Linked DNA regions of Homo sapiens: region 1 is linked to region 2. A link means that fine-mapping ties the variant in region 2 to the expression of a gene that starts in the linked region. Tissue or cell type: testis. Region 2 holds a variant in brackets; the other region holds the start of a gene. All regions are shown on one strand. Distances are between the middles of the regions.

The links. PIP is the estimated chance that this variant, and not a neighbour inherited with it, causes the effect.
Region 1: PXN starts here. The variant in region 2 is fine-mapped to the expression of PXN in testis (GTEx, PIP above 0.99).

What each region holds. Positions count from the first base shown.
Region 1 is chr12:120,264,457-120,267,212 of GRCh38, reverse strand. PXN (paxillin) reads left to right here and starts at 1,483. Exons shown (of 15, transcript NM_001385981.1): 1 at 1,483-1,596. The coding sequence starts at 1,584. RefSeq lists silencers at 1,176-1,455, 1,616-1,765.
Region 2 is chr12:120,240,893-120,243,648 of GRCh38, reverse strand. All of the region lies in intron 1 of PXN (paxillin), which reads left to right. Among named protein-coding and RNA genes, the nearest start is that of PXN, 23 kb to the left of the region's middle. The variant A/C (reference allele first, on the strand shown) is at 1,526.

The DNA.
Region 1 (2,756 bases), 24 kb before region 2:
ATCCCACCAGGAGGCAGGAGATCACCTGAGATCAGGAGTTCAAGACCAGCCTGGCCAACATGGTGAAACCCCATCTCTACTAAAAATACAAAAATTAGCCAGGCATGGTGGTATGCGCCTGTAATCCCAGCAGGAGGCAGGAGAATCACTTGAACCTGGGAGGCGGAGGTTGCAGTGAGCTGAGATTGCACCACTGCACTCCAACCTGGGCGACAGATTGGGACTCCATCTCAAACAAAAACAAAAACACAAAAACTAAAACAAAATAGAGGTATGTGCAAGATGCTGGAAAACCACGCAATAGAGTGTTTGAGGAACAGTCTTTGGTCTTGAATTTATTATAGGAGAATGTGGCAGCCACAGAAGCTGCTTGGATCTGCCTTTATAAAATGACTGAACATGGTGGGAGCATTGGAACCCGGATACTTCTGCCCAAGGAGACTTCTCATTTTTTTTGTCCTGGAATTCCCTGATGGGTTGACCTGTTTGTCAGATCTGAGTCTCCTTGCCCAACCCTGCTTATTTCCCCTTCTCTGTCACGGGCATTACCCCTAGCTTTATCTCAGCATCTCATCTGCTTTCTGGAGGACCTGATCTGACCCAGAAGGCCTGGATTCTTGAGGGACAAGGGGAACTCGAAGCTGTACTTGCAGAGCAGTTTTATATAAAATCCACAAACTGCCATCACCCATCCCAACGGGTAGGGAAGTACCTCTAGGAGGATTAATTTAGAGAATAGCTATATAGTGTCTGTCTATTCAGACACTCAATAAATGGTAGTTGTTATTATTACCCAATTTCCGAGTGTGTGGGAGCACTGGGTGTGACTTTCCTGTAGTTTTCCCTTTAATGTCTAATCTGGGGACCCCTCTGCCCCATGCAGTTTTGGAAAAGTGTCTAGGGAGGGTGGCTGTGTGGAAGTAATATTAAGAGAGATGGAACCACACAGGTATTGGGTTTGGGCCAGAAAGGGTGAACTGCGAGCTGCACTGCCATTGATCCAGAGGACGACCCCAGGAAAGGTCAGCCACGGGCTCCGGGCCTTGCCTGGTACTGATTTATGGTCCTCCTGGGTGGTGACCTACAGGTGACAGACGGACAGGTGGGCAAAACTGACTGTCCAGTGGACAGGCATGTGATGACCCAGTGGCTGACGAATGCACAGACACATGGCTGACTGTGGACGGATTTGTCATCCGCAGGGTCAGGCAAGTGACTTTGAGAGGGACAGAAAGATGGATGGGAGTGGCTGGAGGCCTGGGAGCCGCCCACCTGCCCGCTTAGCCGCGAGGGGGCGCCACCGCCCCGCCCAGCGACGCCCACTGCCCGGGCTCTTGGCGGGGGCGGGACCAGCGTGCGCAGGGGGCGGGGCCAGCAAGCTCGCGGGGGTGTCCGGGGGCGGGGCGCGCGTGCACAGGGGGCGGCCGGGGGCGGGGCGCGCGGCGGGCGCGGGCGCGGGCGCGCGCGGCGGCGGCGCGTTCCGTTCCGGGCCGAGGCTCGCGGCGGAAAAGTTGCGGGGCATAGACGAGCGGCCCCGGGACGGGCAGCTAGCGCGACCCTGAGCCGGCGCCCGTGGTCCGGCCATGGACGACCTCGGTGAGTGAGCGGGAGGCCGAGGGAGGAGGAGGCGAGAGGCGCGCAGCTTGGGGCCAGGAGGGCGCCAGCGAGCGGCAGGGGCCGCGGGATCCCACCCTCGGCGGCCCCGGCCTCAGCTCCTGTCCCTGCCGGCCGGGGCTCCGCGGGGCTGGGATCCCTAACCGGGCCTTAGTCTCGGGCCAGGCCGGCCCCGGCACCGACCGCACAGCAGCGACCCCCCGTCTGGGACGGCTTCACCTCTGGACCCCCGACCTCGGGGACCCATCACCATCTCCCAGAAGGGCCCCAGGGACCAGCCCGCCCCTCAGGGACCCACCCCGTCCGCTGCAGGGACGAGACTTCCTGCGGCAGACCACCTCGTCAGCTACGGGACCCTCACCTCGCAGACCTCTCCCCACCCCCACCTCACAGATCGACCGCCCAACTCGGGGAGCAGCTGCCCGATCTCATGGGCTGCTCCCTCATTTCCTCGACCTGCTCCCCGTCCCTCCAGGGCCGCCCCCCACTTCACAGACTAGCACCCCCCTTCAGGGATAACCCCTCGGAGCCCACCCCTTTCATTTCACAAGTCAGATGCAAAAGCTAGAGATGAGCGTGTGATGACCACACCCCCATTTCAAAGACAAGTTTCCCAGTCTGCCTGCTCTTCTGACCCCCCACTTCAAATCTGGTCACCCCGTTTCAAGGACCCATCACTCATTTTCTCTCACTGACCTCCCCGCTCTGTGGACCAGCCCCTCAATTCACAGACCAGTCCGTCTACCATGGTATCTAAGTCTAGAACGGTAATTTGGGAGTCCTGATTCTCTCCCCACCCCTAGATTCTGGTGAAATGCCAGGGGAATGAGGTGGAAGGTGGGCCCCAAGGTATGACCATCCCTGAACGTGTCCTGGCTAGCAGAGTCCCCTCCACCCTCTCTGCGTCAGGCCCTGCTGGAAGCCACGCAGGTGAAAGAGGACAGGATGCCCAGAACAGAGTTTTACTGTTTTCCTGTTATTGGAGCCCCAAGGCTACTCTTTTCAGTCCAGTCTTGATCTGGTGTTAGGGGAAAGAAAGTATCTCCTGGAAGCCGACTCTAAACCCAAGGGGGTTGGTGCCAGGGTTCTAGGAATGCCTTGGGTGGCGTGAACGCAGGAGTGGGAGGATTCGCTGTCTCTCC
Region 2 (2,756 bases):
CCATCATAGCTCACTTGCAGCTTCAAACACCTGGGTTCAATCCATCTTCCAGCCTCAGCTTCCTAAGTAACTGGGATTACAGGCATGTGCTATAGCACCTGGCGAATTTTTAAAAATTTTTTGTAGAGACAGGGTCTTGCTGTGTTGCCCAGTCTGGTCTCAAATTTCTGCCCTCAAGCAATCGTCCCGCCTTGGCCTCCCAAAATGCTTGGATTACAGGCATGAGCCACCATGCCCGGCCTTTTGTTGTGTGTTTAAATAGAACCTCAACATTTAGAAAAGGCCCCAACCTTTGTCCTTTACTTAAATGGTCATTCTGTAATAAGATTTTGGAAAGAGACCTTCCCAGCAGAAAAGCAACACGTTGCTTTTTCTCTAGGTAGGCAGGATGGATCCTTTTTATCCTCTCGTTGAAGAAGATAAACTAAGCTATTATGAGTCTCAAGGGATTAGAAAGGATTTAGCCTGGTAAAGAAGACAGGAGAGAGGTCTAGGGAGAGGGAATAGCTCATGCAGAGGCCTGGAGGGCGGACGTGTGTGCAAGCATGTGTGTTTAGTTCATTGGTAGTGATTTGGTGCCCTGTGTCCAGTTGGATCTTTCAAGCTAATCAAACTTATCCTGAGCCACAAGGCCAAGGACAGTCATTAGGCTTTGCATCTTCATTGGAATGACCTTTTGGGGATGACCTTGCTACGATAGCTGAGATGGGGCTGGCCTTTGGGGCATCTGTTATCCTACAGTGAGATGAGCTTTTTTTTTTTTTTTTAAAGCCCGAGTCTCGCTCTGTCGCTCAGGCTGGAGTGCAGTGGCATAATCTTGGCTCACTGCAACCTCTGCCTCCCAGGTTCAAGCAATTCTCCTGCCTCAGCCTCCTGAATAGCTGGGATTACAGGCGTGTACCACCACACCAATTTTTGTATTTTTAGTAGAGACAGGGTTTCTCCATGTTGGCCAGGCTGGACTCGGACTCCTGACCTCAAGTGATCTGCCCGCCTCTGCCTCGCAAAGTGCTGGGATTACAGGCATGAGCCACCACACTTGGCCATGAGATGAGCTTTATCTGTGCAAAGTCTCTCTGTGGTCAGCTGGGGCTGGGGCCGTGGGTCAGTTCTGAAGGGCATTTCCATGAGGGTTTGAGGCCTGAGATTGTGTCCTGGGCCCTCTGGCCCCAGTGGTGAGCCGCATGCTCATGTGGCAGGAAGGATCTGGTTCCTCTGATAACCTGCTTAGGCTGACCCCTCTTTTTCCTGGAGGACGGCTGTCAGAGATGGGGCTGGCTTTCTATTTGAATTTCAGAGGCAGACTCGTGCAGATGGGTGCGGGCAGAGGAAGGGAGCCCATGGTCTTCCTGAACACTCTGAGAATTCCCAGAGCAGGCTGCATGCAACTTCCTGAGGTTCTCCCAAAGCCAGACAGGGAGAACAACTTGTGTTCAGGAGAAGGGTACCATATAATTTAACAAACTGTTACTTAGATAGGTGCCTTGGCCAGAGAAAAACGTCCTTGGGCCCTGGCTCAGGGAAC[A/C]CTGTGGCTCTGCCTGTTCTTGGTGTAACTCCTGATCCTTGTTACCGTCATTACCTGACCCCTGCCGCAGACCTTCTTCCCTGTCTCATCTGTTCCATCCCTCCTGCAGGAAACAAACATGGGAGGCATCCTGCACTCCTCACTCCTTCTCCATATCCACTCAGTTTCCAGGTAACATTGATTTTACCTGATTTCATGTAGAGTATTGCAACTCTTGCTCTTCCTCCAATTGAGCCCTGCCTCCCTCTGATCTCCCCTGCCTGAGTGATGTAAAGTGCAAGCCTGGTCCTGCTGTTCCGCTGCTGACCGCCTTCCTTCTGTGGCTTGCCCTTGTAAGTCCAGACTCCCCAGTGGGCCCTCGGCCCTTGACTCCTCTTCCATCAAGCTGGGACTTGCACTCTGAGCTCCCATCCCCTCTGTCTGGGCACTTTCCCAGGCTGTTTTCCACCTCTGCCTGGAAAGCCCCTCCCCTTTCCTCCTGGCCCACTGCCGCTTTCAGGGCCTTCTGCCCCTCGTTTATGACAGTCTCCCACTAGTCAGTGCTCCCCGGAGACAGGCATTGTATATTTGCCCCTCCCATGCCCAGCATAGTGCCCGTGCACACTATGTGTTTGTGAACGCGATTGGAGCCATCACTAGTAAAGGTGAGGCTGTCCCAGTGAGAGCATCGGAGGGAGGGTCTTGGAGGAGGCACGTGAGACAGGTGCAGGTGGCTCTGCCTTGGATACCCAAGCGAGGCCACATCTGTTTTGTGCCTCCTGAACTGGGGTGGCTTCACTGGAGTTTGCTGCCTGGGTCAGTGTCCAGGCAGGTCCCATTCCAGAAATTCTGATCACCTGGGATTGAGGTGAAGATGAGGCAGCTTCAGCTTCAGCCCCTAGTGATCAGACTTGTCTTCAAAGGACCAAGCTGTGATCTGACAGGGGCAGGGTGGTGCACTGTCAGGCCTGCCCATGGCAGTGGTTTCATTCAGATTCCCAACCCCTTTGGGCCATGACTATTGGGATCTCTCCCCAGAGTAGTGTGGTAGGGACATGGTAGTGAAACTTCAGGTGGTCCACAGATCCCCAGGAGGGTCAGCTCCAGATGCCAGATTAAGACTTCTGATATAAAGTTTAGCTCCCTTGGGGGGCTCTCTTCCTCCCTTTCCCTTTGAAAGGGAAAAAAAGAGAATGTGGAATACTTTTGCTCCAGGGTTAGGGAGCTGAACTGAGCCAGCAGGAAGAGGGTG